2 separate regions of the Homo sapiens genome follow, and region 2 is linked to region 1. The links come from fine-mapping of genetic effects on gene expression. A gene starts in region 1. The other region holds a variant in brackets. All regions are shown on one strand. Distances are between the middles of the regions.

What was found. PIP is the estimated chance that this variant, and not a neighbour inherited with it, causes the effect.
Region 2: its variant is the best candidate, but not a certain one, in a credible set for the expression of MFGE8 in whole blood (TOPMed, PIP 0.53).

Annotation. Positions count from the first base shown.
Region 1 is chr15:88,910,235-88,915,607 of GRCh38, reverse strand. MFGE8 (milk fat globule EGF and factor V/VIII domain containing) reads left to right here and starts at 2,229. Exons shown (of 8, transcript NM_005928.4): 1 at 2,229-2,361. The coding sequence starts at 2,289. RefSeq lists an enhancer at 2,488-3,019.
Region 2 is chr15:88,858,577-88,863,949 of GRCh38, reverse strand. It overlaps ACAN (aggrecan), which reads right to left. Exons shown (of 19, transcript NM_001369268.1): 12 at 4,533-5,373; 13 at 3,511-3,624. Among named protein-coding and RNA genes, the nearest start is that of HAPLN3, 34 kb to the left of the region's middle. The variant GT/T (reference allele first, on the strand shown) is at 2,769.

The sequences.
Region 1 (5,373 bases):
TTAGTAGGGACCAGGTTACACCATGTTGGTCAGGCTGGTCTCGAACTGCTGACCTCAGCTGATCTGCCCGCCTAAGCCTCCCAGAGTGTTGGGATTGCAGGCGTGAGCCACTGTACCCATCGGTTTTTCATAGATTTTTAAAAATCAGGTTGAGGAAGCTCCCTTTCACTTCTAGTTTGTTGAGTGTTTTATCACGAAGACGTGTTGGATATTATCAAATGCTTTTTCTGTGATTATTGAGTTGATCCTATATGTCTTTTCCCCATATATATATATATGTTTTTTTTTTTTTTAAGACGGAGTCTTGCTCTGTTGTCCAGGCTGGAGTGCAGTAGCGCGATCTCGGCTCACTGCGAGCTCCGCCTCCCGGGCTCACGCCATTCTCCTGCCTCAGCCTCCTGAGCAGCTGGGACTACAGGCACCCACCATCACGCTCGGCTAATTTTTTTTTTGTATTTTTAGTAGAGACGAGGTTTCACTGTGTTAGCCAGGATGGTCTCGATCTCCTGACCTCGTGATCCGCCTGCCTCGGCCTCCTAAAATGTTGGGATTACAGGCATGAGCCACCACGCCCAGTACCCGCTTCTGAATATTTTAAGAAGGGCATCTTGCCAGTGGACTCTAGTCCCAACTTAGGTCTCAACACAGCTAGGAGGGGAGATGTGTGACTGTTCTATTTTGTTTGTTGGCTAGTCTGACTTAAATACTTATTAGTATTAGTATTGTTATTATTTTTTGAGACAGTCTCGCTCTGTTGCCCAGGCTGGAGTGCAGTGGTGCAATCGTGGCTCACTGCAGCCTCGACCTCTTGGGATCAAGCGATCTTCCCACCTCAGCCTCCTGAGTAGCTGGGACTACAGGCATGCGCCTGGAATATTTTTGTATTTCTTTTTTTGTAGAAACAGGGTTTTGCCATGTTGCCCAGGAAGGTCTCGAACTCTTGAGCTTAAGTGATATGCCTACCTCGGCCTCCCCAAGAGCTGGCATTACAGGCTTGAGTCACCACTCCCAGCCTGAAGCATTATTATTATTATTATTATTATTATTATTATTATTATTATTAGAGACAGAGTCTCACTGTGTCACCCAGGCTGGAGTGCAGTGGCATGATCTCGGCTCACTGGGACCTCTGCCGCCTGGGTTCAAGCGATTCTCCTGCCTCAGCCTCCCGAGTAGCTGGGATTACAGGCACCTGCCACTGCGCCCGGCTAATTTTTGTATTTTTAGTAGAGACGGGGTTTCACCATCTTGGCCAGGCTGGTCTTGAACTCCGACCTCAGGTGTTCCACGTGCCTCGGCCTCCCAAAGTGCTGGGATTACAGGTGTGAGCCACCGCACCCAGCCAAAACACTATTATTAAAATCACTTATTTGTAAACAGGTAATATTTGCACATGATAAGTACAAATCATTTAGTAAAAAGTCAACGGTGACAGGCTTGCTTTGTTTTATTCCCTTTCGGCAAACAGGTGCCCATTTCCTCGCATTTTGTCTATGGTGCCTTTCTTGCAACAAAGGCAGAGATGAATAGCTGCTACAGAGACTCAGGGCCTACATATCAGAGAACATTTTCTATTAGGCCCTTTACAGAAACCTTCGCTGATTTTTTTTTTTTAGTATTTTACCATTTCAGACAATGTTGCTATGCTATCTTTGTATATCTGTCATTTTGCACATGGGAGTTTCTGTAGAATGAATCTCTCTATGTGGAAATGCTAGGTCTTAAGGTGTCAGCATTTGTCGTTTTGATAGGTGTTACCAAATAGCCCTCTAGGGAAGTTGAACTAATTTATACTGTCTTCAGCGAAGCATGCTTGGACCTGTTCCCCACAGCCTCCACTAACCTTGTTAACATCTTGATACTTGCCGATCCGAGAAGGGAAACACGATGCTCATTGTAGTTTTAATTTGCATCTATCTGATTATGAATAAAGAGTTAGCATCTTTTCAAGTCTAAAAATCTTAAAAACAAAACTCCTGAACTTTTCCCGCCCAACAGACTCAAGACTCGTGACCCGGCCGTTGGCACGACGCGGGACGCCGGTGTGGCAGTGGCGGAAGAGGCAGATATCGCGGACCACCCCCGCGCCCCCCAATTCCTTTCAACCAATTCCCTCCCAGCCGCGGAGCCCCGCCCCCAGTCCGCCTCTGGCCAGCTTGGGCGGAGCGCACGGCCAGTGGGAGGTGCTGAGCCGCCTGATTTATTCCGGTCCCAGAGGAGAAGGCGCCAGAACCCCGCGGGGTCTGAGCAGCCCAGCGTGCCCATTCCAGCGCCCGCGTCCCCGCAGCATGCCGCGCCCCCGCCTGCTGGCCGCGCTGTGCGGCGCGCTGCTCTGCGCCCCCAGCCTCCTCGTCGCCCTGGGTGAGTGGATCGCGCCGCCCTCTGCCCCTCGCCCCTCCTCCCCGCGCCGCTCGGAAGTTTGCCCGGCGCCCGCCCTCCACCTCCACTGTTGACAAACTTAGACAAAGCCCCGGGGACCGGGCTGGGCAGAGGGGCGGCTTCTTCCGCTGCGCCCTGGCGGGACAGGGGGATGCGGCCCTGCTGTCTCTGCGCTGGGGCTTTTGGGCTGGGACTCGGGACATCGGGTGACAGCCCTGCCGCCCCCAGGGATGCGGCTTACAGATAATGACAAAGGAATCCGCTGTGTCGGGCCTCTCTTTTCCCTGGTGAAAAATGAGGCCAGGGAACTGCGTTTGACTTTCGAACCCCTTCCACCTGGGAGATTCTAGGACTCTAGTATGGATAAGTCTTGTCTGGATAACTTTGTCCTGGCCATCTCCCTGCCAACTCCAGTTGGCTGGACAGTTCATTGGATTTTTGCGCTCCCAATTGTCCGTGCCTGGTCACATAAGGGAAGGGCCGGGGAGTCGGTGCAATGGACGCAGGCCGTAAGTGGGGCCCGGGAGGGGACCCAGAGGCTTCGAGGAGCTTGGAAGAGGGCTGCCTGCTGATGGGAGTCTCCTGACTCCCTCCCTCCCGCGGCCTTGGCCGGCTGCTGTATCTTCCCCGGTCCTCCTCCGCCTCCCAGGAGGCCTCCGGAGGCCAGCTGGGCCCCTTGCAGGCTGGACTTGCGGATGCCCCGTGCCATTCACCGTGGAGCGCTGGGAGGGAGTCAGGGCCAGGACTCTTTAGGTGGCCCCTCCATCATTTTCTCATAGAAATGGGATTGACTGAAGCAAGGTAGGTAACAGCTGAGCCCCAGCCCTATGTCCTGTGATCTGCCTGACCCTCGGGGCTAGAGCTTCCAGAGTGCTCCAAGCTCCCAGGAACTTGGGAGCTCCTGGCCCTCCCCGGCCACCATGAAAGACAGCTGGATCTTCTTAGCCCCTTTCTACTCTTCCCTGTACCCCCCAACCTGAACTCTGGCCAAATGTTACTGGAAAGTCCCCGAAAGAGCAGGACTCTGAAGTCCCAAAGATGTTTTTATACAGGGTGATGTGGCCTTTTCCAGAAGGAGGAAACACCATACCTATCTTACACACAGGTAACGTGGCTGGGTAGAGTACACCTTTCCCTTTCCCTTTTTCCCACTGGACCGTTTTGCCCTGGAGCAGTGTAGGGAGAGGGCCGGTGCAGTTGGGAGGGAAGAGTCCATTCCCAACCCAAGCCTCTGTCTGTGTCAATGCTCGCCCCCGCCTGCCAGGTCAGAGGAAGGATTACCTGCTATTTAAAGCCAATGACTAATAGCTCCTTGGGAGCCACTTTAAGCTCCTGAGGCCCCTGGAGGGGGAGCTCTGAGGGCAGATCGCTCATTAATGGTGTTGTTGCCTTCCCTGGAGTGGGATGAAGGGGCTTTGAGATTTCAGGAGGACTCTCCAGCCTTAGATGGGTGACTCTGAGGGGGAGGCAAAAAGGTTTTTTTTTTTTTCTTTTTTCTTTTTGAGATGGAATCTTGCTGTGTCGCCCAGGCTGGAGTGCAGTGGCGCGGTCTTGGCTCACTACAAGCTTCGCCCGCTGGGTTCATGCCATTCTCTTTCCTCAGCCTCCCAAGTAGCTGGGACTACAGGCACCTGCCACCACGCCCGGCCCGGCTAATTTTTTGTATTTTTAGTAGAGACGGGGTTTCACCGTGTTAGCCAGGATGATCTGGATCTCCTGACCTCATGATCCTCCCACCTCGGCCTCCCAAAGTGCTGGGATTACAGGTGTGAGCCACCATGCCCGGCCAAGGCAAAAAGATGTCTCATGTCTTGCTCCAAATGACAGATTTGGGTGTAGGGTCTGGGGCAGCCCTTCTGGGATGCTAATGTCGGCTAGAGGACTCCTGTTGGGCCCGGCCGACCCACCAGAGTCAAGGGATTGAGGACAGGCCCTCCTGTTCCTTCTCCTGTGTTCTCCACCACCGGGGCTGATAGTGTACATCTGTCATCCAGGTTCCCATCCAGAAGCCCTGGTGGCCTCTCCAGCCCTTGCCCCCTGGTGGTTCTGAAATCACCCTTCCTTTTCACTCCTCTGCCCTGACTTCCTCTCTCACCATGCTCTCCTGCTCTCCACCTTCACCCTCTTCAGTGGGATTTCTGCATTTCAGCCAGAGGGACCTGTCTGCAGCTACCAGATGCTCCCCACCCTGGGAGAGCTCAGCGGCATGTCTGCACATGGGCCTTTTCAGCCTTCTTCATCCCGCAATTGGAACTGACTTTCCCACTCCCATCTCACACTTGAGAATCTCTGTTTCTTGTTTCTTGTTTTTTATTTTATTTTTATTTTTTCTCCCCCCTGGTGGACAATGGTGAGGAGGGTGAAGGAAGGTTAAAAGCCACTGCTCTACGGGATGAAAAACTAAACTTGTCATTCTTCAGATCCCTCCCAGTCTGGCCCCAGCCTACCCTTCCAGCTGCATCTAACTGTGCTCCAACATACCACACCCTCTGTGCATCTGCTTTTCTTGGAACATTCTTTACTCATTGCCCAGTCTGGCACCCCCCTTACTTTGTCTTCTAGACCCAGCTCAAATATTCCCTCCTCTGGGGAACTTCTAATTCCCCAGCAGAAATCATGCCTCCAGTGACGGTCCATGCAGGCTTCTGGAGCGTTGGGCAATCTTCCTCATCTGTGGACTTGCTGGCCTCTTTCCCCTTGGCTTCTTGAGGCCTGCGCTGCATCTGATTTCTCTGTCTCGGGGGCCTAGCATGGTCATTGGCCCTCCCAGTGTTTCCTGGATGATCATCGTGCTGTTCCTGAGTCAGGGCTGCCATTGGAGGTGACATCTGTGACTGCAACCTGTGCCTGAATTGGTGGGCGGAACCTGCTCAATGGGCCAGAACAATGCTTCCTTCCACTGCCCCTGCCTGAAAGTCCTCATGGGCCTCCTTTGCAATCAAACTGCTGCCAAGAGACCTGCCCTGGACCTTGCCTGCCTCTCCAGACCCCAGC
Region 2 (5,373 bases), 52 kb after region 1:
TCCTCCTGCCTCGGCCTCCCAAAGTTCTGGGATTACAGGTGTGCACCACTGTGCCCAACAATATCCTGCTTCTTAAATCAATCAGTTGCCTGTTAAAATCTGCCCAGGAACTTTTTGGTTAAGTCAAGAAGGCATACTTTGTATTTTCACTTGCAACCCTATATTTTCATTTGCTTTGAAAACATTTCTTTCTCAAGGATAGAGGTTTCTCTGAAATTCAAACATCTCTCCTAGAGGAAGAGAGAGTGGAAAGTCATAGATCAGAGCTTCAAACCTAGAAACTGAAAAATAGCAGTAAGATAGGAAGGAAACTGATTCAGTTTAAGGTCGTGCCCTCCTAACAGAGGAGATAAGAGAAGGCTACATAGCACCAGTGATGACTGGAAATTGGATGTGAGATCTGGTTAGAACAGTATTTTTCATCCTTGGCTGGCACATTAGAATTACTGGAGTAGTTTTTAAAAATATTCCTATTTAAAGATTTTTTAAAAATACCAATGCTGAAGTTCCTCTTTAGACCAATTGAATCAGACTATCTCAGAGTGGGGCCCAGGCATGATGCTTTTTAAAAGCACTCCAGGTGATTCTAAGCTGCAGCCAGGATAGAAACCTTAGAGTCTGAAGCCTAATTCCCTTGGGTGATGTCAGTAATGGAAGTGGGGAAAGACGCTGCTGTTTTTGAAGTGGGTCAGAATAGAATAGTCTTGCTTTTAATTGCTAAATAACTTATAATAACTTATCAAGAACTTATTTATGGAAGATTGACTAAAAAAGATGACAGTAATTGTCAATTTTTTTTAAGGACTAAATACAGCTTCTGACCCCCTTGACCAGGTGGAAGTTTTCCCTGAGGATTCAAATATTACTGCAGGAATCATGCTGCATTTTGCTCCCTATGGCCCCCCGAGGATACTGATCCATGGTCTTGTTTCTTTTTTTTTTTTTTTTTTTTGAGACCGAGTGTCACTCTGTCACCCAGGCTGGAGTGCAGTGCAACAATCTCGGCTCACTGCAACCTCCGCCTCCTGGGTTCAAACAGTTCTCCTGCCTCAGCCTCCCGAGTAGCTAGGATTACAGGGGTGCGCCACCACACCAAGCTAATTTTTGTATTTTTAGTAGAGATGGGGTTTCACCATATTGATTAGGCTGGTTTCGAACTCCTGACCTCAGGCAATCCATCCGCCTTGGCCTCCCAAAGTGCTGGGATTACAGGCATGAGCCACTGCACCTGGCCGATCCGTGGTCTTTTTAACAACCTGTAGTTCCTGATTGTGGTGCAAGACAATCGTGGGTCACCCGTGAAGACTGGCCACTATCTGCAGTCCTTCTGGAAGCACTTGAACCTTGAGCTAAGTTGAACAAGAGTGACCTGGGACCCCAAGGTACAGTCATGGGAAAAGAGACCCAGGTTTTGTGCTGGGCTGATCCCCACCACTCACTCTTTGGAGATGCTAAAGCTTCTCTTAGCCAGTAGAGTGAGAGATGGGGAAAGGGAAGCAATTTTTATTAAATGCCTCTTCTGACCAGATGTTGTACATGGGTGATCTTCACCCTCACAGCAGCGGTTCTCAGTCCTGGCTGCACATTGGAGTCGCCTGGGAGTTTTAAAAACCTCAATGCCAAGGCCACAGAACCACTTCAATCACAATCTGTGGGGGTAGATCTCAGGCATCATAATTTTTCAAAGCTGAGAACCATTACCATCGATCCCTGTTTACAAATGAGGAAAATGAAGGCTGGGCTGCAAGTCTTGAATCCGACCACCTCAGATTCCTCAGCTCCTCCCCATTCTGGCTCCCCTGAAGTCCAGCTTCAGTTTTTTGAGACCAGCAACTGGTTGTTATGTTCAAGAGGGAGTTTCTTATTTAGCCGAGTGTGTTAAACACGTGAATTAAGGTCTTGATTCTTGATTCAATCCACTTACTCAGTATAGTTAGGCAAATTACTTAACTCCTCTGAGTTCCAGTCTCAAATGGGGGTAGTTACCAAGCTGCTTACAGAGCCATCTGGGGAGAAATCGTGGGAACAAAAGCCCTGTGGAAATATACATGATCACAGAGAGGCTGTCCTTACAGCAGAATAGTTACGGCCCACTGACACTTACTCCTATTAATTTCAGGGCTGCCAAGAACATGAGCCTTGCTTTGACTTCTGATGCTAGTGTCAGATTTTTGCCTCAAGTATCAGGTTAAGAAGGATTTCCCAAGAGTGGAGTCACCCATCAGGGGTGAGTGATGGTGGGGTGCAGCTATGGTCCCTGGGGTCACTATGGCCCAGTGGAAATGCTGTCCCCTTCTGCAGTAAGCCCGGGACCTTCCCAGGATAGCCCACCCTCTCTGTCCTTGCAGCCCACACGTTGGGGAAAGAGTGAATGAATATCTACCCTAACGTCTGTTTATATATACATATATAGTTACTGCATATGTACCATGTATACAGCATGTTTATATGATATATAATAATATATAATGATGTATTAATTTGCATGTATATTAATATATATAGACACAGAATTCTTCTCTGTGTTTGATGTAAAGGCTATCGAAGGATAATTGCCCGACATGAGGTTTACGTGGAAGTGATTGTTTTTTCTCCAGGATTCGTTTTTTCATTTTTGCACATGTCCTAGGAGTGACCCCTTTTATGAAAGACCCTAGGTCTCTGATTCTTGACCTAGGAGGGAGGCTGGGGATAAGGGCACTGGGGTTAGTGGGAGAACTAATGAAAGAACATGAGCTTGGTGGTAACTGGGCATTTCTTTCCTCAAG[GT/T]GGTGATGTTGATAAGATGAGATGAGATGTCCTCATGACCACGGGCCTCCCGTGTGTCCGTGGAACAACAGGTAGATTCTAACCATCTCCTTCCGGGGTCCACCTCAGATCAGAGGGTCCCCAGCCTCTCCACCCATCCCACAGGCTGCTTCACCCATAGCTAAGGACAAACAGGCTCATGGTGGGTGCCTGGGCAGACGTGCTGCTGGGTTACAGCTGCCCTACATCCACGAATCCCTGTGCTGGGTGATTACCGTTGTTTGTGTCATTTCCTTCAGGGCAAGAAGGGGACCCAAACCCCACGCAGACCCAAGCATGGAGGCAACTTGGTGGGGTTCACTCTGCACGATACAAGATGGCCCCACTCAGACACTCCTCACCAGGAGCGGAGAGGTGTGACCCGCTGTATTTAATACTCACCCCATGCTCGATATTTCTTTGAAGTCTCATCTCCAAAATTCAAGCACATTTTTCATTCTACTCCTACAATAGTCATCAGCCTGATATAAAAATACTTAGCAACTTAATTACTTGACTCTTTTCTCCTAAACCTAGACATTCGAGAAAGATAAGCCATGTCTGTCCTGTGGCTTCTGCCCCTGACATGTCATCATGCAGCTCCTTCCCAGCCTGAGCCTCAGTGGACCTTGGTTGCCTCCTCCCACCTGGGGACCCTTTGGGGGATGAAGAAGTCTGTCCAGCGCCTCCGCCCTCACTCTCCACGGCCAATGAGGGCCTTACCTATGTTACAGTGCTCGCCAGTGTAGCCAGGGGGGCACAGGCATATGACGTGTCCCTCTGTCTCCTTGCAGGTCCCAGCTCCACAGGGCTCCTCTGCACAGGACCTGGCGGGGGCTGCAACCCCCAGGGGAGAGGTTGAGCATCAAGAACACAGTCACCTGGCTACCATGGCCTCCAAGACCTCAAAGTTGGGGCATGAGGTTCCTGAAGTCCACGAGGCTGGCTTTGGGTCAGCACTTTTCTGAGGCCTCTGTCCCTCCTGGGCACCTGGCCCACAGCATCGGGGGGAGCTCTCTAGCTGTGAAAGCTCTCTCAGCACAAAGGAAGGTACAAGGGACCCCAGAGCAAAAAAAAAAAAAAAAAAAAAGGAAAATCAGCTACCGCTACCAGTGCCCGCTGCCCGGCACTTGGAGTTATGTCACGGTGAGACAATCATGATAGTACAGGAGCCCCTTTGTACACGGATGGGGTTGGGGATGCAGAATCTAAAACCAGATAGCCAAATGACACTTCATAGTTCCTTAAGTTGTGCAGGTTTTAACCCTGCACAAAATAAATATTCAGACATAAACACCATCAGCAGATTTACTCTCTCATCTTACACTCACTCCGGGGCAGGGTGCATGAGCAGAATTTCTAGCACTATCTAGACAGTCATCCTTCTCTCCCTGTGCCAAGTACAGATAGTTGAATTCACGTGTAAAAACTCACGGACTGTAACTCCGCTGTAACGATAACATCACTCATCTTTACAAGTGTGCACTGCATGCAGAGCGTGATGCTAAGTGCTTGCTTTATCTATCTATGTTTATGTTCTGCCTAATCTTCCCTGGTAGAGTATTATCCTACTCTTACGTTACAGATGAGGCTCAGAGAGGGGAAGACTATTGCCTGAGGCTGCACAGCTAACCTTTGGTGGAGTTGTTCTTGGAACCTTAAAGCTATGCTGCCTCCTTCTGTGCTGCAGTAGGCTACAGTCTGAACTACCTAAGCACATTTAAAGGGGGAAAAAATCACAATACCTGCAGCAGTTGATTCTGATTCACGTTTCCATTCCGGAGAAGCTGGGATGGAAGCATCTGTTGGGGAGGTGGCTGTTTCGACTGTGTGAGTCTCTTCTCCTGAGTACAGGAGGCTTGAGGACTCAATTTCTAGATGCGTCTCTGCAGGGCGCTGGGTCTGCTGGGTCCACTCAGACTCTGGGATGCTGGTGCTGATGACAACGCCCAGCTGCGAGGTGTGACCAGACAGGTCTCCGCTGATTTCAGTCCTGTCTCCAGAAGCCGTGGGAGTGGCTGAAGGCAAGCCTGGTGCCTCTGTCCCCACATCACTGGTGGTGGTGGATTCTCCACTCACTTCTGGGGCAGCGGACGCCTCGCCTTCTTGAAATGTCAAAGTGCTGCCGCTCACTCCTAGGCCAGAGGATCTCTCAAGGTTAGCTTCGTGGAATGCAGAGGTGGTTTCACTCAGATCAGGGGACCCAGAATCTTCTCTGCTGGCCTCAGGGGCGGCAGATGCCCCGAACCCAGCTTCAGGATAGGCGGACGTCTCACTGCTAGATTCTGGGACTGATGATACTTCTACTCCAGACCCAGGGAGCACTGGGGTAGCTCCACTAATGTCCCCAGCTGTGGAGACTTTTCCACTGGACTCAAAAAGCTGGGGTGTGTGTGTCACAGGGGGCCTTTGGCCTAGTTCCTGAGAAATAGTTGGTTCAGTAACACCCTCCACGAACTCAGAAGTGATTAAAGTAACTTCTGGAAGTCCTGAGGCCTCTCCACTGGTGCCCATGGCTACAGAGGATTCTCCACTTACATTGGTGGTGCTGGCAAAATCCCCACTAAAATATGGAGTACCTGGTGG